Linked DNA regions of Homo sapiens. The protein of the gene in region 2 purifies or fractionates together with the protein of the main gene of each other region. This does not show direct contact. Each region holds a gene or a part of one and is shown on either strand. Other genes may lie near its edges. The genes, in order: RP2 and SLC44A2.

Region 1 (11,873 bases), on a different chromosome or scaffold from region 2:
ATTTAAGATTTATGTTGCTGTACTTTCTCAACAATTCCTGAAAGTTTTTCAAAACAAAAAGCATTAGGAGCTAGACACAGTGGCTCACATCTGTAATCCCAGCTACTTGAGAGTGGGCCAGTGGCCTAGTGAGACTAGGAGTTTGAGACTGGCCTGGGTGACACAGTGACACTCCCCTAGCTCTAAAAAAGTTTTTTAAAACTTAGCAGATTATTTGAAGTGAGTTGGTGGAAGGGGGGTAAAAAAACACAAAAACCCTTAGCTGGGCATGGTGGTGTGCGCCTGTAGTCCTAGCTACTCAGAAGGCTGAGGCAGGAGGACTGCTTGTGCCTGGGAGTTCAAGGCTGCAGTGAGCCATGATCATGCCACTGCACTCCAGCCTGGGTGACAAAGCAAGACCCTGACACTTTAAAAAAAAAAAAGTAATAATAAACAACTGAAACTGAAATCCTTCGTAATTTTGCAGGTTACTAGTTCTGAAATAAAGTGTCTAGAATCACAAACATGGAAAGGTCATGTTTTAAATTATTTTTTCCTAAGAGCCACTTATGAAGTGAGTTTAGTTTAGACTGTATTTTTTTTTTCTGACACAGGGTCTCACTCTGTTGCCCAGGTTGGAGTGCAGTGGCACACTCACAGCTCACTGCAGCCTCGACCTCCACCGTTCAAGCAATCCTCCCCGCCTCAGTCTCCTGAGTAGCTGGGACTACAAGTGCACACCACCATGCACAACTAATTTTTGTATTTTCTGTAGAGATGGGGTTTCGCCATGTTGTCCAGGCTGGTCTCGAACTCCTGGACTCAAGCGATCCACCCACCTCAGCCTCCCAAAGTGCTGGAATTACAGGCATGCGCCACCGTGTCTGGCCTAGACTATTTCTTACTACAATCCTTAAAAGGTAATGGATATACTTTAAAAAATCAAGGAAAGTGGCCAGGCGTGGTGGCTCACGCCTGTAATCCCAGCACATTGGGAGGCCGAGGCGGGTGGATCACCTGAGGTCAGGAGTTCCAGACCAGCCTGGCCAACATGGTGAAACCCCGTCTCTACTAAAAATACAAAACTTAGCTGGGCATGGTGGTGGGCGCCTGTAATTCCAGCTACTTGGGAGGCTGAGGCAGGAGAATCGCTTGAACCCAGGAGGCAGAGTTGCAGTGAGCCGAGATCGCACCACTGCACTGCAGCGTGGAAGACAAGAGCCAAATTCTGTCTCAAAAAAAAAAAAAAAAATCAAAGAAAAATTTCAAGAGTTGTAATTCGTCTGATATCAATTTAATGTCCTACAGCTATTAAACCAAGTTAAGCATTATTTTCCTAACAGAAAACAAAAATGAACATCTTATTATCTTACTAAGCGGCAATACAAATTTTTCATTAAAATTCATCTCCACAGTTAAATTTCCATAATGATAATGTGAGATAAAATAATGGGATTTGTTAATTCCAATGAAAATCCAGTCTGAATAGAAGTAAAAAGATTCAGGAGTATAAGAAGCACTATATATGTACCAGGCACCATACTAAGTGCTCTATAATCATTCACTCAATCCATAAAAACCCCATAAGGGTTGTGTACTATAATTATCTCTGTTTTATACTTGAGAAAATTGAGGCACACAGAGACTATATAACTTGTCCAAGGACACACTGTGAGTCCATATATATATATATATATATATATATATGTATATACACATATATGAGTCCATATATATGTATATACGCATATATATGCGTGTATATATATACACACACATATATACACATATATACACACATATATACACATATACACATATATGTGTGTATATATATACACACACACATGTGTGTATGTACACACACACATGTGTGTATATACACACACACATATGTGTGTATATACACACACACATATATGTGTGTATATATACACACACACATATATATAGTGTGATCGATATAGATATATATATGTAAAGAGAGATATGCCTGTTTATGAACTCTCTATTCCATTGATTTGTGCATCTAGTAAGCAATTGTTTTGTATATGTATGTATATATATACACACATATATATGGTGTATGTGTATATACATACATACATACATACATATACATATAGTGCAGTGAACCGAGATCGCGCCACTGTACTCCAACCTGGCGACACAGCAAGACTCCGTCTCAGAAAAAGAAAAAAAATTCCTAGATGTGAAACCAAAAACACAATCCACAAAAGAAAAAGTGAGTGGAAATTGGACTTTTACTCAAATTGAAAATGTTTGCTCTTCAAAAGACACTCTTAAGAGAAGGCAAGTTATTAACTGGGAAAAAAGTATTTGCAAAACATATATATAACAGGGGACTTGTATCCAGGACATATAAAGAGCTCTGAAAAACTCAATAATAAGAAAACAAATAACCCAATAAAAAAATGGGCAAATGATTTGAATAAACATTTTACCAAAGATATATGGATGGCAAATAAGTACATGAAAAATGCTCAACATTTAGGTAAATACAAGTCATTTGGGAAATGCAAGTTAAACTACAATGAAACATCACTACACACCTATTAGAATGGCTAAACATTTTTTTTTAAAGCTAGGCGAGGTGCAGTAGCTCACAGCTGTAATGCCAGCACTTTGGGAGGCCAAGGTGGGACGATCGCTTGAAGCCAGGAGTTTCAGACCAGCCTGAGCAACACAGCCAGACCTTGTCTCTACAAAAAATAAAAATATTAGCCGAGTGTGGTGGCAGACACATGTAGTGTAGTCCTAGCTACTTGGGAGGCTGAAGTGGGAAGATTGCTGGAGCCCAGGCAGTCCAGGCTGCAGTGAGCCATGATCATGCCACTGTACTCCAACCTGGGAGACTGAGCAGACCCTGTCTCTTAAAAACAAATTAACCTGACAATACCAAGCAAGTGATGTGAGGATGCAGAGCAACTGTATCTCTCATATACTGCTGGTAGGCAAAATGGCATAGCCACTTTGAAAAATAGTTTGGCAGTTTCTTTTTTAAATTTTTAATTAATTTTTTTTTTATAGAGACAGGGTCTTGCTCTGTTGCCCACACTGGAGTGCAGTGGTGCAATCAGAGCTCACTGCAGCTTCAAACTCCTGGGCTCAAGCAATCCTCCTGTCTCAGCCTCCCAAGTAGCTGGGACTACAGGCATATGCCACTCTGCCTGGCTATGTTTATCCATTTTGTAGAGGTGGGGTCTCACTATGTTGCCCAAGCGGGTCTTGAACTCCTGGCCTCAAGCGATCCTTCTGCCTTCACCTCCCAAAGTGCTGTGATTACAGGTGTGAGCCACTGACCTGGCAGTTTTTTGTAAAGTTTAATAAACAATTTCCATATGATCAGCAATCCCACTCATGAGTATTTACCCAAGTGAAATGAAAACTTATGTTCACTCAAAAACCTGTACACAAATATTTATGGTAGCTTTATTCATAATTACCAAAATTGGAAACAACCCAAATGTCCTTTAACTGATGAATGGATAAACAAACTGTGATATATCCATACAACGGAATACCACTCAGCAATTAAAAAGGAACTCCCGGCTGGGTGTGGTGGTTCATGCCTGTAATTCCAGCACTTTGGGAGGCCAAGGTGGGCGGATCACCTGAGCTCAGGAGTGCAAGACCAGCCTGGGCAACGTGTTGAAACCCCATCTCTACCAAAAAGATACAAAAAATTAGCTGAGTATGGTGGCACTCGCCTGTTGTCTCCACTACTTGGGAGGCTGAGATGGGAGATCACTTGAGCCCCGGAGGCTGAGGCTGCAGTGCGCCAAGATTGTGCCACTGCATTCCAGCCTGGGTGACACAGTGAGACCCCATCTCAAAAAAAAAAACTCTTGATACATGCAACAACATGGATAAATCTTAAATGCATTATGGTTAAGTGAAAGAAGCCAGACTCAAAAGGTTACGTATTGTATGATTCCATGTATATGACATTCTCAAAAAGACAAAACTATAGGGATAGAAAACTTATCAGGAGCTGGGAGTGGGGCTGACTACAAAGGAGCAAACTGACTATACAAAGGAAGAACTTTTGGGGGCGATGGAACCATTTTATATCTTGATTGGTGATAGCTCCACAACTGTATTTATTTGTCAAAACTCATAGAACCGTACACTTAACAAGGGTAAATTTTACTGTATATAAATTACACTTCAATTAAAACAAATACTTAAAGTTTAAACATTGTTAAGTCAGCTTCAGGGCTAGATAGCTATGTAGCTGAGAGGTTATTTCACAAATGAAAACATTAGTGCCACATAATTATAGAACTAATAGTGCTGAAATATAAATTCTTAATCTCAATGACTTTGAAACATAATAAGAAAATGAACAGGACAAATAGTTTCTCTCAATAATAATATAAAACTTATGATCTTAGTCAATATACACACCTCCCAGAAGACAGATCCACTATCTTTGCTATTAAATTGTGTTCTGGGCATGCAAAGCTAAAGGGTAGCCTCTGTGACACTATGGTTTGAGTTTTCCTGTGACTTAACCCAAGTGACACCTACATCATCATTGCTACTGTCAATACTGTCAGTAGGCTTTTAGCCTATTTGGAATTTATACAAGTAAAAAATGTACTAAGCTTTTATGAACAGACACTTCTCAAAAGAAGACATTTATGCAAGCCAACAGACACATGAAAAAATATTCATCATCCCTGGCCATCAGAGAAATGCAAATCAAAACCACAGTGAGATAACCATCTCACACCAGTTAGAATGGCGATCATTAAAAAGTCAGGAAACAACAGGTGCTGGAGAGGAGGTGGAGAAATAGGAACACTTTTACACTGTTGGTGAGACTGTAAACTAGTTCAACCATTGTGGAAGACGGTGTGGCGATTCCTCAAGGATCTAGAACTAGAAATACCATTTGACCCAGCCATCCCATTACTGGGTATATACCCAAAGGATTATAAATCATGCTGCTATAAAGACACATGCACATGTATGTTTATTGCGGCACTATTCACAATAGGAAAGACTTGGAACCAACCCAAATGTCCATCAATGATAGACTGGATTAAGAAAATGTGGCACATAAACACCATGGAATACTATGCAGCCATAAAAAAGAATGAGTTCATGTCCTTTGTAGGGACATGGATGAAGCTGGAAACCATAATTCTCAGCAAACTATAGCAAGGACAAAAAACCAAACACTGCATGTTCTCACTCATAGGTGGGAATTGAACAATGAGAACACTTGGACACAGGAAGGGGAACATCACACACCGGGGCCTGTCGTGGGGTTGGGGGAGGGGGGAGGGATAGCATTAGGAGATATACCTAATGTAAATGACAAGTTAATGGGTACAGCACACCAACATGGCACATGCATACATATGTAACAAACCTGCACGTTGTGCATATGTACCCTACAACTTAAAGTATAATAAAAAAATTTTTTTAAATAAAAAAAATGTACTAAGCTTTGTAGAGTACCAGGGTCAAAAATATATTTTTTAAATGATTGTTTTAATAAAAGGGGCTATGAAAAATTCAACTCATATCCTATGTATCTAATGATCTTAACCACGACCTTGCTATTTCAGCTTTCTGATACCTTTTCTTTTTTGATGCTTCATTCTTAAAACTTCTATAAAAATTTCTGAGGCTGGGTGCAGTGGCTCTTGCTTTTAATCCCAGCACTTTGGGAGGCCGAGGTGGGAGGATCAGATGAGACCAGGAGTTCGAGACCAGCCTGGCCAATATGGCAAAACCCTGTCTCTATTAAAAATACAAAAATTACCCTGTATCTTGAGCTTATATAGTATAAGCTCAAGACCAGTATCTTGAGCTTATATACTATTGATGATTCGAGAAACTGAAGTACTACATTTATATTAGCTTACCATTTTGTGAAATATATAACAACAAAATAGAATTATGAAATTTTAGGATTGAAAAGATTCCCCATATCATCTAATCTAATCTGAATCTATTTTTACATCCTATCACATTCCCTTTGTTCATCCAGATTTGCCTGAATGTTTCTAGCAATGCTTACCTCCCCTCATGGGCTGCTCAAAGAATTCAAGAACTGGAAGGGATCTTAGGAAACTGAGGGCTAAAAGCTAAATTAGTTTACCAGTGAGGTGTAGTTAGGTGCAGAATACAAATTAAAATTCCAGCCCCATATACTTTTCACTCTCTATGCTTTTTACCTTTATCAAAATTTTATATGGGTGAAGAAACAACACTCACACATTGCTGGTGGAAATATAAATGGTGCAGGCACTCTAAAAAACTGTTTAGCAGTTCCTCAAAAAGTTAAACATAGGCCAGTCGCGGTGGCTCACGCCTGTAATCCCAGCACTTTGGGAGGCCAAGGTGGGCAGATCACGCAGTCAGGAGATCGAGACCATCCTGGCTAACATGGTGAAACCCCGTCTCTACTAAAAATACAAAAAATTAGCCGGGCGTGGCGGCGGGCGCCTGTAATCTCAGCTGCTGGGGAGGCCGAGACAGGAGAATGGCGTGAACCCGGGAGGCGGAGCTTGCAGTGAGCTGAGATCACACCACTGCACTCCAGCCTGGGCGACAGAGTGAGACTACGTCTCAAAAAAAAAAAAAAAAAAAAGTTAAACATAGAGTTACCATATGACCCAGCAATTCCAAACCTAGATGTGTACACAACAGAAATGAAAACATGTCCAGACAAAAACTTGTATACAAATGTTCATAGCACCATTATCCATAATAGACAAAAAGTAGAAACAACCCAAATGTCCATCAGCTGATGAATAGATAAATAAAATGTGGTATATCCATACAATAGAATAAAGTCTTGATACATGTTACGATATGGACAAACTTCAAAAACATGCTAAGTGAAAGATGCCAGTCACAAAAGGCTAAATATTGTGGCTCCAATGAAGTGAAATGTCCAAAATAGGAACACTTATAGAGACAGAAAATAAGTTTGTGGTTTCCAGGGGCTCGGAGAGACGAGAATGGGGAATGACTACTAATGGGTACAGGGTTTCTTTTTCCAGGGATGAAAATGTTCTAAAATTAGACCATGGTGATAAGCCTGTGAACTTACTAAAAAATACTGAATTATATACTTTATTTTTAAACTAAATTTATTTTAAATTTTTATGGATATATAATAATAGTAGTATGCATTTATGGGGTACATGTGATATTTTCATACAAGCATACAACAATGTAATGATCAAATATGGGTAACTGGGATATCCATTACCTCAAACACTTATCATGTCTTTGTGTTGGGAACATTCCACATTTTCTCTTCTAGCTATTTTGAAATATACAATAAATTATTATCAACAATAGTTGGCTGTGGTGGGTAGTGGGGAGGAGAGGATGAAGAGTGGTTGGTTAATGAGTACAAAAACACAGTTAGACGGCTAGGCACTGTGGCTCATGCCTGTAATCCCAGCACTTTGAGAGGTCGAGGCAGGCAGATTGCCTGCGGCCAGGAGTTTCGAGACCAGCCTGGCCAACATGGTGAAACCTCATCTCTACTAAAAAATACAAAAACTAGCTGGGTGTGGTGGCACGCGCCTATAATCCCAGCTACTTGGGAGGCTGAGGTGAGAGAATCGCTTGAATCCAGGAGGCGGAGCAGTGAGCGGAGATCATACCACTGCATTCCAGCCTGGGCAACAGAGTGAGACTCCATCTCAAAAATATATATACAGTTAGATAGAATGAATTATATACTTTAAATGGGTGAATTGTATGGCATATGAATTATATCTCTAAAAAGCTATTTTTAAAATTAATAAACAAAGAACTAGTTATATCCTTTAAACAACTTTATATAGAGGATTTAAAACCTACTGGCAAATTCTTTGACACTCCTCCCATTGAGAGGTCACCTCCTCTTGGAACTGGGTGGGCATTTGTGACTGCCTCAGCATTACTCCTGCCACATCCAAATTAAGTCTAATTAAGTGACTTAAGAATTCACTTAATAAGCTAGTTAGAAAAAAACCATGCAGCTTCTGCCAGTCTCTCTTAGGATGCTTGCCCTTGGAACCCTGCCATCACACTGTAAGGAAGCCAGGAATACATGGAGAGGCCCCAGCTGAGCTCCCAGCCCAAAGCCAGCATCAACTTGCCAGCCAGCTATGTGGTCAAGCCATCTTGAAAGCTGTCACGGTTGATGCCACATTGAGCAGAGTCAACCCTGCTTAACCTTATGCAAATTAAAGAGTTATGAACAAAATATCTGCCATTATTTTAAACCATTAAGTTTTAGGGTGGTTTGGTACACAGCAATGGGTAACTAGAATACTTTTCATACTTAAAAGAAGGCTAAAAACAGTATCTAGCCTCCTCCTACTTAGTGCAGACACTTCTTTCTAGCAGATTACCACCCTAACTGTCTGACAATTTTGACTAACATGGAGATCAGGTCCTCAACGAAGCCACCCCTTCCACTGATGACCAATCCTGGGAATTATGATCTGCCTTATGTTAAAACCAGTTCTGTCATGCCCAACCTCTGGTTTAAGTTCTTTCCTCAGAGGTGACCATTACTGTCTAAACCTCTTCTTCAGGACAGGCCTTTACCTTACTAAACAGTAGAGAAATCTTTAGCATTGTCCTACTATATAGCTGAGGAACCTGAAGTGCACAAATTGGCTGCTTTACCCAAAGTTACACAATAGATACTCGAATTTCTGGTATAAGATTTTTGTTTAGTATTATTTCTATTGAATATGAGACAAATATAACAGACACATGTGTTGTCCTTACTCAAATCACAATTTTCACACTTAAGCCATAATTGTTTAGAGTTAATCCTCATTTCTATTATCTAGGAGGAAAAGTATGGGCATGAATACTGGAAGATGAAAACTACTTTTCCGTATCACTCTTCCTCACCTCATATGTACTTAAATGTTTCCTGTTTTAACTCCAGAAAGCCAGTAAACTCTTTTAGGGCAGGGATAAGTCTTATAATTTTGAGACTTACTTGGTGTTTGAGTACATACATACTGAATAATTTGCCTACCTATGGGTGGCAGCATACAGATAAGGATAAAAACATTTCTTTTGAAATAATTTAAACACAAGTCTTACAATCCAAAAATATTTCTCATCACATCAGTGTAAGAATTGTAATCTTTTTTCTTTTTCAAAGTCAGTAGCAATAGAAAATGAGCTTCTTACACTGTTGACTACAGTATGTCAGTTGCTATGACAATGCTTAGTCCCCAGACATTCCTTCTAAATGAGACAATTTCTCCCAGCTTCAGTCCCCTAAGACTGACCCAATTACACAACTCAAACCCCAAAACCCAAGGGGTGCCCTTCAATAAAGATACTCTGGGCTGGGAGCGGTGGCTCACGCCTGTAATCCCAGCACTTTGGGAGGCTGAGGCAGGTGGATCACCTGAGGTCAGGAGTTCAGGACTAGCCTGGCCAACAAGGTGAAACCCTGTCTCTACTAAAAATATACAAAAATTAGCCAGGCGTGGTGGTGCACGCCTGTAATTCCAGCTACTCAGGAGGCTGAGGCTGGAGAATCGCTTGAACCCAGGAGGCAGAGGTTGCAGTGAGCCGAGATCGCGCCACTGCATTCCAGCCTGGGCGATGACAGAGCCAGACTCCATCTCAAAAAGAAAACATCAAAAAAAGATACTCTGATTACACAACCTAAGGAAAAATGTAAACACCCTTTTCTAAGCTGCAAGGAAATTTTTCAGGCAACCCATTTTGTTTTTACATGTAAAAGTCTTACAAGTTGAATGGTAATTGTCTGATATAACTTTAAAACTGTATATGCTATAATCCATAACCACATTCCAGAAGCCTAAACTTTTAATATAAATCATTTCTATTAATATGCATGCATCATATCTCATTTATGTTCTCTGGGCTGTATTTGCAATCTGTTCCTTTTAAGGTACAACTGAAATCTTCTAGGAGCAAGCAAGGCCATGCTCAGTAAACGTATCATTGGACTAATACAGAACATTTGCACACTAGCCCAAATTAACCTCACGGGAGGCAAGGAACTAGGAAAAAATATTTTATTTATTTATTTTTTTTTTTTGGAAACAGGGTCTCACTCTGTTGCCCAAGCTGGAGGGCAGTGGCCCGATCATGACTCATTGCAGCCTCTAAGTCCCAGGCTCAGGTGATCCTCCCACCTCAGCCTACTGAGTAGCTGGGACTACAGGTGTGCACCACCATGCCCCACTAATTTTTGTATTTTTAGTAGGAATGAGGTTTCGCCATATTGCCCAGGCTGGTCTGGAACTCCTGGGCTCAAGAGAGCCACCAGCCTTGGCCTCCCAAAGTCCTGGGATTACAGGCATGAGTCACCATGCCTGGCCCTAGAAAAAAATATTTTAAATTGTATAAAATTTAACAAGCTATCAAAATGAGGCAACTTAGAAAGAATTCCTAGTAATTCCAAAAGAAAAAAAAACTAAAAAGAAAAAGCTATGTTGGGAAATGTGGTATCTGCATTGTCTCAAAATGTAAGCTGGTAATTCTCTTCAACAGTCCAAAATATTTTAAAACTGGGGTTTTTTTCAGAATGCTCATTTGGTTAGAAATTCTCATTTTGATTGGCTGAGTTGATCAAGATTTTAACTTTTATTATACACACACTCAGAAGCATGAGCTTATTTTATATATCCAATAACATCTCTTACAACTCTACAACTACAGAACTTAGTAGTGTTCTCAAAAAAAAAGGTTCTCTGTAAGCTCAAAACAGTTTCTACAATTGAAAGTTTATTACACACTCATTTGTGGGGAAAAAGCTTAGATGTTGGTGTCCAATGTTATATTTCTCAATGCATTTACTTAGCCAATGGGCAAAAGAAGAAAAAAAATCACAGGACACACACACTTATCTAAAAGAAGGATTAACATGAGAAGTCCTAACTAACCTGAATATTATGTTAATAAACATTAACTGTAAAACAATTTATTGTGAAACGATGAGTCATAGGCAGCCAAGACTACTATAAATAAAAAAGGCATTTTATTTAGTTTAGATTTAGCCTGAGTTCAAAAGAAAAAACTAAAATAAAAATGAAATATGCAACTTTCTCTAAGGCAGACAATTCAAGCTAAAAGAACATTGTTAGAAAGCCAAAGGCTGAGGAAAACAATATCTTTTAAAAACCGCCCATCAGATAACTTTAAATGGCAGGTGCAATCTTCTTGTGAAATAGAAAGCATAGTACTTTCTTCCCCTACATTATAAAATGCTACTATCGAGTATGACTAACAGAGAATAAAGGTACCATGTGACCCAAGAAGGGTGTGTATGAGAAGTAGGGGCAGAAAGACGGGGCTGAGAAAAGCTGCAAAAAGCTTTCAATTTCCTAACTCTGACTCTTAGAGACCAGAGCTTACCTGAATACATTCTGCTGGGGATTGGAAATCATGCAGAAAGGTCTGTGATTCCAAAACGTTAATACATTTATTATAAAGTAATCTTGGGTAAAGATATGTTGCCTTAAGCAAAGAGTTAACTGTTCATAATACCCATTTGAAAAATCTCTCATTTTGTTTGGGAGAAATAATTGATAAGTCCATCAAAGTAGTTTAGTAAGCACAAATGGAGAACTATGTAGAAAGAGGAACTATTATGAAATGTATGACCGAGTGTGTTTTGTGTAAGACTAATGGAGGTTTTCAAAGGTTTTTCGTTTCTGGCTATATACAAAAATAAAAATAAGGGCGTTTTCATTCATTTAAACCAGCAGTAAAATACTGCCTGGTTTATGCCGCTTATTTTCACCTTACAGTCTTAATACACATTCCAAGACTGATGCGATATTCATTATTTCTTTCGGATAACTGGAAGAGGAGGGGGAGTAAAGCTGTACATTAAACAGTCCACT
Region 2 (17,124 bases):
TTGGGAGGCTGAGGCGGGTGGATCACCTGAGGTCAGGAGTTCGAGACCAGTGTGGCCAACATGGCAAAACCCCGTCTCCACTAAAAATACAAAAATTAGCTGGGCATCGTGGCGGGCACCTACCTGTAGTCCCAGCTACTCGGGAGGCTGAGGCAGGAGAATTGCTTGAACCCAGGAGGCGGAGGTTGTAGTGAGCCCACATCACACCATTGCACTCCAGCCTAGGCAACAGAGCAGGACTCCATCTAAAAAAAAAAAAAAGAGAAAAATAAAAAAAGTTTTCTATAGGGTGGTTAAGAAGTCTTAACAGGTCGGGTGTGGTGGCTTACACCTGTAATACCAACACTTTGGGAGGCCAAGGCAGGCGGATCACCTGAGGTCAGGAGTTTGAGACCAGCCTGGCCAACATGGTGGAAACCCCATCTCTACTAAAAATACAAAAATTAGCCGGGCTTGGTAGCGGGCACCTGTAATCCCAGCTACTCGGGAGGCTGAGGCAGGAGAATTGCTTGAACCCGGGAGGCGGAGGTTGCAGTGAGCCGAGATCACACCATTGCACTCCATCCTGGGCAACAAGAGCGAGACTCTGTCTCAAAAAAAAAAAAAAATCTTAACAGTTTCCATTCTCCCTTCTCTAACTCCAGGAACAAACCCTATCTGTTTTATTTCAACATTGTGAAATGTGCCAGCCCCCTGGTTCTGCTGGAATTCCAATGTCCCACTCCCCAGGTAACCTGGTCCCCACCGTTCCCTTTTTCCTCTCCCCGCTTCCCATCCTTTTCCCCCTGTGAATGTGGGCTGCGACCTCAGTCCTGAGCAGTCTGCCCCAACTCCACCCAATCCCTTCCTTCTCCCCTCCCAGATCTGCGTGGAAAAATGCCCCGACCGCTACCTCACGTACCTGAATGCTCGCAGCTCCCGGGACTTTGAGTACTATAAGCAGTTCTGTGTTCCTGGCTTCAAGAACAATAAAGTGAGTTGTAGACTGTCCTGAGAGCACAGGTATGGGCAGTGGCAGTGTACTAGACTTGGGGACTCACCTCCCTCCATCTCTCTTGGCAGGGAGTGGCTGAGGTGCTTCAAGATGGTGACTGCCCTGCTGTCCTCATCCCCAGCAAACCCTGTGAGTCAGGGGATCCCAGGAGGCTCAGGTGGTGACGGGGAGGCTCTGCAGAGGCTCAGCCTGACTGGTGCCATCCTCTGCTCCATGCAGTGGCCCGGAGATGCTTCCCCGCTATCCACGCCTACAAGGGTGTCCTGATGGTGGGCAATGAGACGACCTATGAGGATGGGCATGGCTCCCGGAAAAACATCACAGACCTGGTGGAGGGCGCCAAGTGAGGATATTGGCGCACCGCGCCAGGGTCTCACTTTGCTGGGTGGGACAGGCAATCCCCTGTGGTTGGCCTGATCATGGAAGAGGGTCTGACCCGAGCCTTGTCCTCCTTCCCCCAGGAAAGCCAATGGAGTCCTAGAGGCGCGGCAACTCGCCATGCGCATATTTGAAGATTACACCGTCTCTTGGTACTGGATTATCATGTAAGTCAGGAGGGAAGGGGCCTCTCCCCTGGCTGCCCCCTCTAAGCCTGGCTGAGGGTGGAGTCTGTTCATGACCGTTTTCTTTTCCCCAGAGGCCTGGTCATTGCCATGGCGATGAGCCTCCTGTTCATCATCCTGCTTCGCTTCCTGGCTGGTATTATGGTCTGGGTGATGATCATCATGGTGATTCTGGTGCTGGGCTACGGTGCGTCACCCCCTCCCTGTGGCTTCTCTTTCCTGAATCCGCACACTGCCCTGCCCTTTCCCGTGGAAATGGCCCATCAGGAAAACAAAAAAAAGTCAGGCCGGGCGTGGTGGCTCACGCCTGTAATCCCAGCACTTTGGGAGGCCGAGGCAGGCAGATCACCCGAGGTCAGGAGTTCAAGACCAGCCTGACCAACATGGAGAAACCCCGTCTCTACTAAAAATACAAAATCAGCCGGGCATGGAGGTGCATGCCTGTAATCCCAGCTACTCAGGAGGCTGAGGCAGGAGAATCGCTTGAACCTGGGAGGCGGAGGTTGTGGTGAGCCGAAATCACGCCATTGCACTCCAGCCTGGGCAACAAGAGCGAAACTCCATCTCAAAAAAAAAAAAAAAAGAAAAAATGTCTCAGCACCGTAGTTAAGGATGCATACTCTGGTATCAGAATAGCAGAGGTTCAAATCCTGGCTTTGCCAATTCTTTGGGCAAGTGCCTCAACCTAACTGTGCTTCAATTTCTTTCTTTTTTTTTTTTGAGACGGAGTTCTGTTCTTGTCACCCAGGCTGGAGTGCCATGGCGCGATCTTGGCTCACTGCAACCTCCGCCTCCTGGGTCCAAGCTATTCTCCTGCCTCAGCCTCCCAAGTAGCTGGGATTACAGGCATGCACCTCCATGCCCGGCTGATTTCGTATTTTTAGTAGAGATGGGGTTTCTCCATGTTGGTCAGGCTGGTCTCGACCTCCTGGCCTCAGGAGATCTGCCCGCTTCAGCCTCCCAAAGTGCTAGGATTACAGGCAGGAGCCACCGCGCCCGGACTGCTTCAATTTATTTCTCTATAAAATGAGGGTAATTCATATTTCTAGTTGGCAAACTAAATGACAAGGAGGTAATGAGCAGATAAAATATGGGTAGGGGCCTGTTTAGTTCAGGCCTGTGGAATCCAGAGGCACAATATCGTGCTCAACAAAACAGTGCTTCATATTTTGGATTTTTGTTGTTTTTGAGTTGTTGTTTTGTTGTTGTTGTTGAGACGGAGTCTTGCTTTGTCACCCAGGCTGGCGTGCAGTGGTGCAGTCTCGGCTCACTGCAATCTCTGCCTCCCGGGTTCAAGCAATTTTCCTACCTCGCCTCCCGAGTATCTGGGATTACAGGCGCACACCACCATGCCCGGCTAATTTTTTTTGTATTTTTAGTAGAGATGGGGTTTTACCATATTGGCCAGGCTGGTCTCGACTTCCTCGTGATCTGCCTGCCTCGACCTCCCAAAGTGCTGGGATTACAGACGTGAGCCACCGCGCCCAGCCTTGATTTGTTTTTTGAGACAGAGTCTCACTCTGTCACCCAGGCTGGAGTTCAGTGGCACAATCACAGCTCACTGCAGCCTTGACCTCCTGGGCTCAAGTGATCCTCCCGTCTTGGCCTCCCAAGTAGCTGAAACCACAGGCAAGCACCATCATGCCTGGCTAAATTTTTAATATTTTTGTAGAGACAGGTTCTCCCTATGTGGCCCAGGCTAGTCTTGAACTCCTGAGCTTGAGCAGTCCTCCCGCCTTGGCCTCCCTAAGTGTTGGGATTACAGGCGCAAGCCACTGTGCCTGGCCCATATTTTGATTATTCCTTGAACTTTCCTGGAAGAAAAATGCTTGGCAATCCAATTTGAGGACACTCATAGTAAAATATTCATATTAATAGTGGTTTCTAGCTGGGTGCGGTGGCGCACGCCTGTAATCCCAGCAATTTGGGAGACAGAGGTGGGCGGATCACCTGAGGTTGGGAGTTCGAGACCAGCCTGACCAACATGTAGAAACCCCATCTCTATTTTTTTTTTTTTTTGAGACAGAGTCTCTCACTGTCGCCCAGGCTGGAGTGCAGTGGCGCGATCTCAGCTCACTGCAACCTCCGCCTCCCGGGTTCAAGCAATTCTCCTACCTCAGTCTCCTGAGTAGCTGAGATTACTGGCGCCCACCACCACGCCCAGCTAATTTTTTTTTTTTTTTTTTTTTTTTGTATTTTTAGTAGACACGGGGTTTCACCATGTTGGTCAGGCTGGTCTCGAACTCCTGACCTCGTGATCCACCCGTCTTGGCCTCCCAAAGTGCTGGGATTACAGGCGTGAGCCACCGCGCCCGGCCAACCCCATCTCTATTAAAAATACAAAATTAGCCGGGCATGGTGGCGCATGCCTGTAATCCCAGCTGCTCGGGAAGCTGAGGCAGGAGAATCGCTTGAACCCGTGAAGTGGAGGTTGCGGTGAGCCGAGATTGTGCCATTGAACTCCAGCCTGGGCAACAAGAGTGAAACTCCGTCTCAAAAAAAAAAAAAAAGAGAGAGAACTTAGACCATGGCAGCATATGATTATGATTCCAAGTAGGGGGAAAGGGTTCTGGAAGTTCTCTTCTGAAGGTGACACTTGAGCAGAGACCTAAGGATGTGTGGGATCCAGCCATGGGGAGAGAATGCACCGGGCGGTGGGAACTGCAAGTGTAAAGTCCCTGAGGCAGAAGCCTCGATGTTTGCTTCTGTTAAATGGGGGCAGTTGTAGCTGCTTTGCAAAGTTGCAGGAGGCACTGCTGGACTGAGCTTGTGGTTCCCCCATGCAGGAATATTTCACTGCTACATGGAGTACTCCCGACTGCGTGGTGAGGCCGGCTCTGATGTCTCTTTGGTGGACCTCGGCTTTCAGACGGATTTCCGGGTGTACCTGCACTTACGGCAGACCTGGTTGGCCTTTAGTGAGTCACAGTCTCCCATTCCTGCCCCCACATGAGGCCTTGGAGGGAGTGGGGAGCCCAGCCGGCTCAGCCTTTGCCCTTTGCAGTGATCATTCTGAGTATCCTTGAAGTCATTATCATCTTGCTGCTCATCTTTCTCCGGAAGAGAATTCTCATCGCGATTGCACTCATCAAAGAAGCCAGCAGGTGGGGGGCCAGGGTGCCAGGGGCCAGGATGGAGCTGTCCCTAGAGTTGTGTCTTTTGCCCTGACGCCTGTGTCTCTGCTCTTCCCTAGGGCTGTGGGATACGTCATGTGCTCCTTGCTCTACCCACTGGTCACCTTCTTCTTGCTGTGCCTCTGCATCGCCTACTGGGCCAGCACTGCTGTGTATCTGCCCCCAGACACTGATCTCTGACCCCAGGGATGGCTAAAGACCAACTTTGCCTAGAAGTGACCTGCAGCTTAGGGATAGGGCTGGAAACTGGTGGGAGAATGGATTCTTTCCCACAAAAGTCCCTGGGGTCCTCAGTCCTAGACCTCTGCTTCCTTAACGAACCTCCAGCTTCCTGTCCACTTCCAACGAAGCGGTCTATAAGATCTTTGATGACAGCCCCTGCCCATTTACTGCGAAAACCTGCAACCCAGAGGTGGGCGTCCCCGGGGTGGGGAGGGCAGGTATTGCCCCAGCAGGCCCCAGATGATTTGAAACCTCTCATGTCCACTTGGAGGTTCAGCAAACAATTGGCCCCTGTTGCATGTCCTGTGCTAGGTGTGGGGGAGGACGCACAGTGGGGAAGAGACTCTCTAACTGGATCGAACAACTTCCCAGGGCAAGCTGGCTTCCTCTCTTCAACTTGACCAGGCCTTCACCCTGGGTGCTAAATCACCCATTTTTCCCTACTTCCTTTTTTTTTTTTTTTTTTTTTAATAAGACAGAGTCTTGCTCTGTCACCAGGCTGGAGTGCAGTGGCATGATCTCAGCTCACTGCAACTTCCAACTCCCTGGTTCAAGCGATTCTCCTGCCTCAGCCTCCCGAGTAGCTGGGATTATAGGCACACACCAGCACACCAGGCTAATTTTTGTATTTTTAGTAAAGACAGGGTTTCACCATGTTAGCCAGGATGGTCTCGATCTCCTGACCTCGTGATCCACCTGCCTCTGCCTCCCAAAGTGCTGGGATTACAGGTGTGAGCCACCTCGCCCGGCCCATTTTTCCCCATTTCATTTCCTGTCTCCATGCCCTCTTCTTGACCCCAGTGATGGCCACGTCTTGTTTCTAGAATCCCTTCCTTTGCACAAGCCATATTCTGAACTCTTAATTCCTTCCCTTAACTTCAATCCCTATGTCTCCTGTCCTACCTCATGGTTTTCCTGGCCCCACACCTGATGCTCAGAGCCCACTGTGAACCCCTGGTGCCTCTTTTTGGACTCGGTTCTCCCTTCTCTCCCACAGACCTTCCCCTCCTCCAATGAGTCCCGCCAATGCCCCAATGCCCGTTGCCAGTTCGCCTTCTACGGTGGTGAGTCGGGCTACCACCGGGCCCTGCTGGGCCTGCAGATCTTCAATGCCTTCATGTTCTTCTGGTTGGCCAACTTCGTGCTGGCGCTGGGCCAGGTCACGCTGGCCGGGGCCTTTGCCTCCTACTACTGGGCCCTGCGCAAGCCGGACGACCTGCCGGCCTTCCCGCTCTTCTCTGCCTTTGGCCGGGCGCTCAGGTGGGCTGGCGTTGCAGGCAGGATGGGGTGGAGGACGAGGCCTGGCCCAGCCACCGACCACTCCCTCGGCCCGCAGGTACCACACAGGCTCCCTGGCCTTTGGCGCGCTCATCCTGGCCATTGTGCAGATCATCCGTGTGATACTCGAGTACCTGGATCAGCGGCTGAAAGGTACGTCCCACCCACGGTTCGCATTAGCTCCTGTTGCGGGGCGAGGCTGAATAGCGAACCAGGATTGGGTCTTGCTTGGAGGTGGGCGGGGCCAAGATAATAGAGCAGTGATGGGTTTCTGTCTATGACGGGGTGGAGTTCAGGAGTTGGCGTGATTGAGTCCTGCGATGGAGGAGCAAACCAGAGAACCTACTGGGTGGAATTCTTGCTGTTGAGGGGACAGGCCCAAGAGGCCTGGCCCACCATTGGTTATTACCAGAGTGAATTGGAGTGGTATATATTTGCGCTGAAGAGAGCAGGAATAAGACTGGTTTATTAGCCGGGCGCCGTGACTCACGCCTGTAATCCCAGCACTTTGGGAGGCTGAGGCGAGCGGATCACCTGAGGTCAGGAGACCAGCCTGGCCAACATGGTGAAACCCCGTCTCTACTACAAATACAAAAATTAGCCAGGCATGGTGGTGTGTGCGTCTGCAGTCCTAGCTACACGGGAGGCTGAGACAGGAGAATCACTTGAACTCCGGAGGTTGAGGTTTCAGTGGGCCGAGACCGAGCGACTGCACTCCAGCCTGGGCAACAGAGCGAGACTCCATTTCAAAAAAAGGAAAAAAAACTGGTTTATTTTTCTTAGAGGAAGGGCTCTGGGGCTGGGATTGATGGTACTTTGTTTTAGAGACAGGATCTCTCACCCTGTCACCCAGGCTGGAGTGCAGTGGCACCATCATAGCTCACTGCAGCCTCAAACTCCTGGGCTTAAGTCCCTGTCTCTTTGACAGCGTGGACTCAGGAGACCTGGACATTGGCAAGTGTGTGTGATAGGGAAGAGGGGATCCCTTCCAAGTCAGGCTGGTGTCCCCTCACTTCCACATCCCTTCCCTTCTCTTCCAGCTGCAGAGAACAAGTTTGCCAAGTGCCTCATGACCTGTCTCAAATGCTGCTTCTGGTGCCTGGAGAAGTTCATCAAATTCCTTAATAGGAATGCCTACATCATGGTGAGTGGGCCTGGGACCCCCAACCAACCCGCCAGCTCCTGCTGGGTGAGAGGACCACCCCCCATGCCCACCCAGTGGGTCTGATCTCTCCCTCCCACTCTCCTCCAGATTGCCATCTACGGCACCAATTTCTGCACCTCGGCCAGGAATGCCTTCTTCCTGCTCATGAGAAACATCATCAGGTCGGGAATCATTATCATCTTCCTCCTGCCACCCGCCTCTTCCCCTAGTCCCTGAAGCCAGCATTCACACCTGCCCCTCACTGTCCCCTGCAGAGTGGCTGTCCTGGATAAAGTTACTGACTTCCTCTTCCTGTTGGGCAAACTTCTGATCGTTGGTAGTGTGGGTGAGTGCCGCCCACCTAGCCTCTCGGGGTGTGGGAGCCTGATTTCTGTCTTCTGTGATGAGTGTCATCTTCTTAGGAGGCTGTTTCCTATATCCAGAACCCTTCGCCATCTTGCTTTCTTCTCCTTCTCCAGGGATCCTGGCTTTCTTCTTCTTCACCCACCGTATCAGGATCGTGCAGGATACAGCACCACCCCTCAATTATTACTGGGTTCCTATACTGGTATGGACCTCTGGGGAGAGATGGGGGTTTGGGAAGAAAGAGGTGTTGGGATTTGCTTGGTCTTCTTTGACTAGATAAATGTGGATAGAGGTCAGAGGTGGGGAATTGATTATTTATTCAGACCACAAACTTTTTGTTTGTTTTTGAATCAAGAGTCTTGCCCTGTCGCCCTGACTGGAGTGCAGTGGTGCAATCTTGACTCACTGCAACCTCTGCCTTCCGGGTTCAAGCGAATTCTCGAGCTTTTGCCTCCCGAGTAGTTGGGATTACAGGTGCCTGCCCCCACACCTGCCTAATTTTTGTATATTTATTTTTTAATTTTAATTTAATTTTTTTTTTGAGACAGACTCACTCTGTTGCCCAGGTTGGAGTGCAGTGAAATGATCTTGGCTTACTGAAACCTTCACCTCTCTAGTTCAAGCGATTCTTGTGCCTCAGCCTCCTGTGTAGCTGGGATTACAGGCACCTGCCACCACACCTGGCTAACTTTTTTTTTTTTTTGAGATGGAGTTTCACTCTTGTTGCCCAGGCTGGAGTGCAATAGGGTGATCTCAGCTCACTGCAACCTCCGCCTCCCAGGTTTAAGTAATTCTCCTGCCTCAGCCTCCCGAGTAGCTGAGATTACAGGCACGAGCCACCACGTGTGGCTAATTTTACATTTTTAGTAGAGACGGGGTTTCTCCATGTTGGTCAGGCTGGTCTCGAACTCCCGACCTCAGGTGATCCACCCGCCTCAGCTTCCCACAGTGCTGGGATTACAGGCGTGAACCACCACACCTGGCTAATTTTTGTATATTTAATAGAGATGGGGTTTCACCGTGTTGGCTGGGCTGGTCTCAAACTCCTGACCTCAAGTGATCCGCCCGCCTCGGGCTCGCAGAGTACTGGGATTGCAGGTGTGACCCACCACGCCCGACCTCAGACCACAAACATTATCAAGCACCTACTGTGTGTCAGGCATCGAGGTGGAGGGCTTCCCTCTAAAGGCCTTAGAGTTTGGGGGTAAACAGATACTCCTCCATAATGATATTGGTGAATGTATGATTGCAAACTGGGACATGCCACGAGTATGTCTGTATAGCACAGGGAACTGTTTGAAACTGTGGTGGGGGCTGGGCAGGTGTGGGGGGGGTCCAGGTGGTGCCATGCAGGTGATGTTGGATCTGAGATCTGAAGCTGCAGGCAATATCCAGGCAGAGGGAACAGTACAGTGGCCCTGAGGTGGGAGTGTGCCAGGAAGCAGTGGGGCTGACGTGGAAGGAGTAAAGAAGTGGAGATAAGGGCCAGGCACCGTGGCTCACACCTGTAATCCCAGCACTTTGGGAGGCTGAGGCAGGTGGATCACCTGAGGTCAGGGGTTTGAGACTAGCCTTGCCAGCATGGCGAAACCCAGTCTCTACAAAAAAAATACAAAAATTAGCGGGGCGTGGTTGTGGGCACCTGTAATCCCAGCTACTCGGGAGGCTGAGGCAGGAGAACTGCTTGAACCTGGGAGGCAGAGGTTTCAGTGAGCCGAGATCGCGCCACTGCACTCGAGCCTGGGTGACAGAGTGAGACTCTCTCTCAAAAAAAAAAAAGTGGAGATACGGCCAAGGAGGTTAACAAGGCTGTGGAGGGATTGAGCCTTCATTGCAAGGGCAGTATTGTATCTCAGTGTAGGTCTTGAAGCCCATTGACCTAGTTTCTTATTTTAGTTCCTCTATTTAGTAGTTCTAAGATGAGTAAGAGTAATCTTGGGCAAATTATTTAATCCTCTAAGGTCCACTGACTTTTTTTTTTTTTTTTTTTTTTCTGCGATAGAGCCTTGCTCTGTCACCCACGCTGGAGTGCGATGGAGTGATCTCTGCTCACCACAACCTCCACCTCCCGGGTTCAAGCGATTCTCCTGTCTCAGCTCCCTGACTAGCTGGGATTACAGGCATATGCCACTGTGCCCGGCTAATTTTTGTATTTTTAGTAGAGACGGGGTTTCACCCTGTTGGTCAGGCTGGTCTCGAACTCCTGACCTCAGGTGATCCACCCACCTCGGCCTTCCAAAGTGCTGCCAATAAAGGCATGAGCCCCTGTGCCTGGCCATTTCATTGTTTTGAATTTTTAATTTAATATAATAGAGATAGGCCAGGTGTTGTGGCTCAGGCTCTACTATAATAACAATAATAATAGAGGCAGTGTCTCCCTATATTGCCAGGCTGGTCTTGAACTCTGGACTCAAGGGATCCTCCTGCCTCAGCCTGCCAAAGTGCAAGGACTACAGGCATGAGCCACCACGCCCAGCCAGGTCCACTGACTTCAGTCAACAAATGTTTATCTAGCAGCTACCAAGGCCGTGTGAGTCTCCAGATTGCTAGGGATGCAGCAGTAAATGGGACTGGGTCTAGTGAGGATGTGAGCATTAAACCTGAAAGCCCTAAACATGCATAAAATTGCAGCTGCACCAAGAGCTCAGGAGGGGTGCCCAGTGCTAGGAGGACATAAAATAGGCTCTAGAGGCCGGGCATGGTGGCCCACACCTGTAATCCCAGCACTTTGGGAAGCCAAGGCAGGCGGATCATGAACGTCAGGAGATTGAGACCATCCTGGCTAACATGGTGAAACCCCATCTCTACTAAAAATACAAAAAAATTAGTCAGGTGTGCTGGTACGCACCTGTAGTCCCAGCTACTCAGGAGGCTGAGGTAAGAGAATCGCTTGAACCCGGGAGGTGGAGGTTGCACTGAGCCAAGGTCCCACCACTGCACTCCAGCCTGGGTGACAGAGCAAGATTCCGTCTCAGGAGGGAAAAAAAAAAGGCTCTCAGCCAGACGCAGGGGCCCACATGTATAATCCCAGCACTTTGGGAGGCCGAGGCAGGCAGATCGCTTGAGCTCAGGAGTTTGAAAACAGCCTGGGCAACATGGCAAAACCCCATCTCCACAAAAAAATACAAAAATTAGCTGGGTATGCTGGAACATGCCTGTAGTCCCAGCTCCTTGTAAGCCTGAGGTGGAAGGATCACTTGAGCCTGGGAGGTCAAGGCTGCAGTGAGCTGAGATGGGGCCACTGCACTCTAGCCTGAGCAACACAGTGAGACCCTGTCTCAAAAAAAAAACAAAAAAAAAACGCCCACTCTAGGTGTCGTAGGTGGTTTCCTGGAGGAGGTGGGACTTGAGGACTTGCTCTTTGAGCTGAAAGCAGAAGGTCGATGGGGCATAAATTAGATTTAAGTCAGGACAATAGCACATGCAGAGGCCCAGGGGTTAAAGAAAGCAAGGGTGAGGCTGAGTGCAGTGGCTCATACCTGTAGTCCCAGCACTTGGGGAGGCCAAGGTGGGCGAATCTCTTAAGCCCAGGATGGGTAATGGGTAACGTGGCAAAAACCCATCTCTACAAAAAATACAAAGGTTAGCCGGGCACAGTGGTGCACATCTGTAATCCCAACTACTCCGGAGGCTGAGGCGGGAGGATCACTTGAGCCCAGGAGGCAGAGGTTGCAGTGAGCTGAGATTGCACCACTACAATCCAGCCTGGGCTACAGAGTGAGACCGTGAGACCCTGTCTCAAAAAAAGAAAAAAAAAAAAGGCCGGGTGTGCGGTGGCTCACGCCTGTAATCCCAGCACTTTGGGAGGCTGCGAGGCAGGTGGATCACCTGAAGTCAGGCGTTTGAGACCAGCCTGGCCAACATGGTGAAACCCCGTCTCTACTAAAAATACAAAAATGAGCCAGGCGTGGTGGCACGTGCCTGTAGTCCCAGCTCCTCCGGAGGCTGAGGCAGAATTGCTTGAACCTGGAAGGCAGAGGTTGTAGTGAGCCAAGATCGTACCATGGCACTCCAGTCTGGGCAACAGAGTGAGATTCCGTCTCAAAAAAAAAAAAAAAAGACGGAGAGAGAGAAAGAGGATTTTGTGTGGATGGTGGGGCCCTGCCAGCGGGGGTGAGGGGTTGGGATGTCACTAATCCAAAGAGGGTTTCTCAGCAGGGGAAGGATGTGGTCCCAGCATAGGATGGACTCAGGGGGTGGGGGCTGCTCTGGGAAGGACACGGAGCAGGGACAGCTCGTTTCTCCTTGCCCAGACGGTGATCGTTGGCTCCTACTTGATTGCACACGGTTTCTTCAGCGTCTATGGCATGTGTGTGGACACGCTGTTCCTCTGCTTCTGTGAGTGACCCCTCACCCCAAACCTTGCTGGGCCCCGAATCCCTTCTTTCCACTGGGCATCACATCACCCTCCAACGGGGCAACACGCTTGCCTGCCCCCAGCTTCCCCAGGGCTTGGCTGTCCCTCGTCCTGGGTCCCCAGCCTGTCTTCCTGGTTTCCTTTTGCGCTTAGAAGCAGCTCCGACCTCCTGTCCACTGGCCCAGGCTGCAGCCTGGACGCTGCCCTGGAGCCCGCCCGCGCTTCGCAGTTTCTGGCTTTGACTGGGGGGAGGGGATCTGTGGCTGCCACTAACTCTGGTCTCTCCATCTGTTTTTTTTGTTTGTTTTTTTCTTCTCTCTTCCTCTCCTCCATGCCTGCTGGCTTCCCTGTTCTTCCCTGCCTCCCTCTTTCCCTCCCTTCCCGACCACCCCATTTTCCCCCTGCCGGTTCCCGGGGGGAGCCCAGGTGAGGACCTGGAAAGGAATGACGGCTCTCAGGAGCGACCCTACTTCATGTCGCCCGAGCTGAGAGACATCCTGTTGAAGGGGAGTGCGGAGGAGGGGAAGCGGGCAGAAGCCGAGGAGTAGAGAGTGAGGGAGACTGGCGTGGGGGCCAGGTTTCCTCCATGTAGACTGGGGGTGCATGAAGCGGGGGGGTTCCTGGCCTGCGAGTGTGGGGATCCTGTGTGTCCCTCGGAGCCCACTACAGTCTGCCCCTCTCTGGTCCCAGTGTGTCTGCTTTCTAACCCTCTGAGGCTTCTCTGTGACCCTCATCCACCTACCCTGTCCTTGAGGCCCCTGCCCGTGGGCTCCCCTCATGCCTCCTGCTCTGGGACCTCTCTCCACAGTGGAGGACCTGGAGAGGAATGACGGCTCGGCCGAGAGGCCTTACTTCATGTCTTCCACCCTCAAGAAACTCTTGAACAAGACCAACAAGAAGGCAGCGGAGTCCTGAAGGCCCCGTGCTCCCCACCTCTCAAGGAGTCTCATGCCGCAGGGTGCTCAGTAGCTGGGTCTGTTCCCCCAGCCCCTTGGGCTCACCTGAAGTCCTATCACTGCCGCTCTGCCCCTCCCCATGAGCCAGATCCCACCAGTTTCTGGACGTGGAGAGTCTGGGGCATCTCCTTCTTATGCCAAGGGGCGCTTGGAGTTTTCATGGCTGCCCCTCCAGACTGCGAGAAACAAGTAAAAACCCATTGGGGCCTCTTGATGTCTGGGATGGCACGTGGCCCGACCTCCACAAGCTCCCTCATGCTTCCTGTCCCCCGCTTACACGACAACGGGCCAGACCACAGGAAGGACGGTGTTTGTGTCTGAGGGAGCTGCTGGCCACAGTGAACACCCACGTTTATTCCTGCCTGCTCCGGCCAGGACTGAACCCCTTCTCCACACCTGAACAGTTGGCTCAAGGGCCACCAGAAGCATTTCTTTATTATTATTATTTTTTAACCTGGACATGCATTAAAGGGTCTATTAGCTTTCTTTCCGTCTGTCTCAACAGCTGAGATGGGGCCGCCAAGGAGTGCCTTCCTTTTGCTCCCTCCTAGCTGGGAGTGACGGGTGGGAGTGTGTGTGCCCAGGTGGGGGTGTCTCCTGGCTGGGAAGGAGGGAAAGGGAGGGAGAGTTTTGCGGGGGTTGGCAGTGGAGAGCAGGCTGGAGAGGAGATGGCTAATAGCTGTTTAATGGAAACCTGCTGGGCTGGAGGGAGTTAGGCTGAATTTCCCGACTTCCTCTGCCAGTTATTGACACAGCTCTCTTTGTAAGAGAGGAAAGAAACTAAACCCACCCAAGGGATGATGTCAGGGGGAGAGGTGGAGGGCAGATGTCCTGGGCAAACCGGGCCCCTCTGCCCACACACCTCACTTGATCCTTTTGCCAAACTTGTCAAACTCAGGGGAACTGGCTTCCCAGTTGCCCCTTTGCCATATTCCAAGTCCCCCTCAGACTTCATGTCTCTGCTCATCAGCACTGTCCCAGGATCCTGGAGAGGGAGAACTCCTGGCCCCAGGGGAAAGAGGGGGGGGTCTCCCGTTTCCTGTGCCTGCACCAGCCCTGCCCCCATTGCGTCTGCACACCCCTGCGTGTAACTGCATTCCAACCACTAATAAAGTGCCTATTGTACAGGTCCAGGCCTGGTGTGTTTGTTGGGGGCAGTGAGCCAGTGGCGGCTGGTAGGGGGAACCCCAGCTTCCAAGGCCCTAGGAGTCTCTGAACTAGGGCGATTCTCTCAAAGGGAACGAGGAGGGGGCAGGAAACCCACTGGCTGCTGGCTCTGCCTGAATTCCAACCTTCAGGCAGCTCAGATTTCCCGATTAGGCTCTAATCCCTGGACTCCAGAAGGCAGAGGCAGCCTGTCCACCTCCGCCATCACCCATCCTGGACACACGCCCCCAGGCCTCCCCTCTCTCAGGGCCCAGGCACCTGAGGTCCTGCAGTCACTATGCTCCCCAGCTACTTTGGATCTGCGAAGGGACTGACTGCCCTTGGGGTGGGCCCCACTGCCTGGAAGCTCGCTGCTGCCCCCTCGTGCCAGCTGCCAGTGTCAGTCACCTCCAGGCAATCCGCCCCAACATTTCAATTCTTTCCACCTCCTCTCAGGGAATTTTTCTTCAATATCCACTTTTTTTTTTTTTTTTTTTTTTCAGACAGTCTTGCCCTGTCACCCAGGGTGGAGGGCAGTGGTGCGATCTCGGCTCACTGCAACCTCCACCTCCCGGGTTCCAGCGATTCTTCTGCCTCAGCCTCCCGAGTAGTTGGGATTACAGGTGCCTGCCACCACGCCTGGCTAATTTTTTGTGTTTTTAGTAGAGACCAGGTTTCGCCATGTTGGGCAGGCTGGTCTCAAATTCCTCACTTCAGGTGATCCGCTGGCCTCGGCCTCCCAAAGTGCTGGGATTACAGGCGTGAGCCACCTGGCCCAGCCTTTTTTTTTTTTTTTTTTTTTTGAGACAGGATCTCACTCTGGCTGAAGCTAAAGTGCAGTGGTGCAATCATGGCTCACCACAGCCTCAGGTGATCCTCCCATCTTAGCCTCCCGAGTAGCTGGGACTACAGGTACACACCACCACACCTGACTAATTTTTGTATTTTTTGTAGAGATTGATTTTTACCATATTGCCCATGCTGGTTTTTTTTGTTTGTTTGTTTGTTTTTTGAGACAGAGTCTCCCTTTGTGGCCCAGGCCACAGTGCATAGTGCCACAGTGCAGTGGCACAGTCTCAGCTCACTAAACCTCCTGGATTCAAGTGATTCTCGTGCCTCAGCCTCCTGAGTAGCTGGGATTACAGGCGCGTACCACCACATCCAGCTAATTTTTGTAGTTTTAGTAGAGACGGGGTTTCACCATGTTGGCTAGCCTGGTCTCAAACTCCTGACCTCATGTGATCCACCTGCCTCGGCCTCCCAAAGTGCTGGGATTACAGGCATGAGCCACCAAGCCTGGCCAGCATTTTTGTTTGTTTGTTTCCAAGAAGGCATTTGAACCCAGGTCTTGGCTCCAGAGTCCTCAAGTTCTACCCTATGCTGGCACTGACCCCTTCCTCGATGCCTTTGTTTCCCTGGATCCTTTGAATCTGGCATTTTATTCAGCCCCAGCTCCTGTTACCATGCCCACCTAAAAAATAGCTCCTGGCGGCCGGGTGCGGTGGCTCATGCCTGTAATCCCAGCACTTTGGGAGGCTGAGGCGGGTGAATCATGAGGTCAGGAGTTTGAGACCAGCCTGGCCAACATGGTGAAAACCTGCTGCTACTAAAAATACAAAAATTAGCCAGGCATGGTGGCACATGCCTGTAATCCCAGCTACTCGGGAGGCTGAGGCAGGAGAATCGCTTGAACCCAGGAGGCAGAGGTTGTGGTGAACCAAGATGACACCATTGCACTCCAGCCTGGGCAACAGAGCAAAACTCTGTCTCAGAAAAAAAAAGAAAGAAAGAAAAAGATTTGTGGTACGATACATATAGCATAAAATTTGCCATCTCCATCTCTTTCTTATTTATTAAGCCACTGGGTCTCACTATGTTACCTGGGCTGGCCTTGAGCTCCCGGACTGAAGGGATCATCCCGCCTCAGCCTCCCAAGTAGCTGGGATGACAGGCACTCGCCACTGTGCCTGGTTTATGTTTAATTTTTTGAGGAACCACCATAGTGTTTTCTGGCTTCATGCTTTGGCTCCACTTCTGGGTTGGCTTCACTCTCTGCCAAGTTCCTTTATCTGGGTATATTCCCTGCCTCCAACCACACTGTGCTGTGATAGTTAATTTTAGGTGTGAACTTGGCTGGATTAGAAAATACTCAGATTTGAGCTGTGATGTGGTAAAAATAAGACAAAGAAAAAAAAAAAAACAGTGGCTGGGCTCCGTGGCTCACGCCTGCAATCAGCACTTTGGGAGGCCGAGGTGGGCAGATCGCTTGAGCTTGAATTCGAGACCAGCCTGGGCAACATGTGGAAAGCTTGTCTCAACAAAAACTATGAAAATTAGCAGGGTGTGGTGGTCATGCACATGTTGTCCCAGCTACTCAGTAGGATGAAGTGAGAAGGTCACTTTAGCTCAGGGGGTGGAGGGTGCAGTGAGCTGAGATCACACTACTGTGCTCCAGCCTGAGCGACAGAGCAACACGTCTGATAAAGCATTATTTCTGGGTGAGCGCCATCCAACTTGCTGGGGCTCCGACAGAACAGAAAAAGGAGAGAAAGCATTTTCCTCCTCAGAACTGGGACACTCTTCTCCTCCTGTCTTGACACTCCAAGACTTATACCAGTGATCCCTGGTTCTCAGGCCTTCGGCCTTGGACTGGGAATTACACCATTGGTGTCCCTGGCTCTGAAGCTTTAGGATTCAGACTGAGCCTCGCTACTGGCTTTGCAGGGTCTTCAGCTACTGGAGCTGCTGGCTTTTCAGGGTCTGCAGTCAATGCATGTGGTAGGACATCTCAGCCTCCATGATCACATGAGCCAATTATTCTGCTAAATCCCCTCTCATCTACCTACCTCCTATTAGCTTTCTCGGAGAAACCTAGTAATACACACATCATACATTTTCCTGGCCTTTTTTTTTTTTTTTTTTTTTTTTTGAGATGGAGTCTTGCTCTGTCACTCAGGCTGGAGT

What was found.
Region 1: the proteins of SLC44A2 (region 2) and RP2 purify together in Homo sapiens (affinity purification with mass spectrometry; 4 studies listed by BioGRID and IntAct, with this or other methods). This does not show direct contact.

The regions. Positions count from the first base shown.
Region 1 is NC_000023.11:46,837,743-46,849,615, reverse strand, and holds part of RP2 (protein XRP2), read right to left. Parts: intron 1-11,873. UniProt on the Homo sapiens protein: Acts as a GTPase-activating protein (GAP) involved in trafficking between the Golgi and the ciliary membrane.
Region 2 is NC_000019.10:10,630,413-10,647,536, forward strand, and holds the end of SLC44A2 (choline transporter-like protein 2), read left to right. Parts: intron 1-644; coding exon 645-729; intron 730-862; coding exon 863-973; intron 974-1,062; coding exon 1,063-1,123; intron 1,124-1,213; coding exon 1,214-1,337; intron 1,338-1,455; coding exon 1,456-1,539; intron 1,540-1,631; coding exon 1,632-1,744; intron 1,745-4,343; coding exon 4,344-4,475; intron 4,476-4,561; coding exon 4,562-4,661; intron 4,662-4,750; coding exon 4,751-4,843; intron 4,844-5,018; coding exon 5,019-5,103; intron 5,104-5,910; coding exon 5,911-6,173; intron 6,174-6,249; coding exon 6,250-6,344; intron 6,345-7,231; coding exon 7,232-7,335; intron 7,336-7,443; coding exon 7,444-7,517; intron 7,518-7,610; coding exon 7,611-7,681; intron 7,682-7,814; coding exon 7,815-7,903; intron 7,904-11,954; coding exon 11,955-12,039; intron 12,040-12,484; coding exon of another isoform or gene 12,485-12,606; exon of another isoform or gene 12,607-12,866; coding exon 12,867-12,973; 3' UTR 12,974-14,145; downstream 14,146-17,124.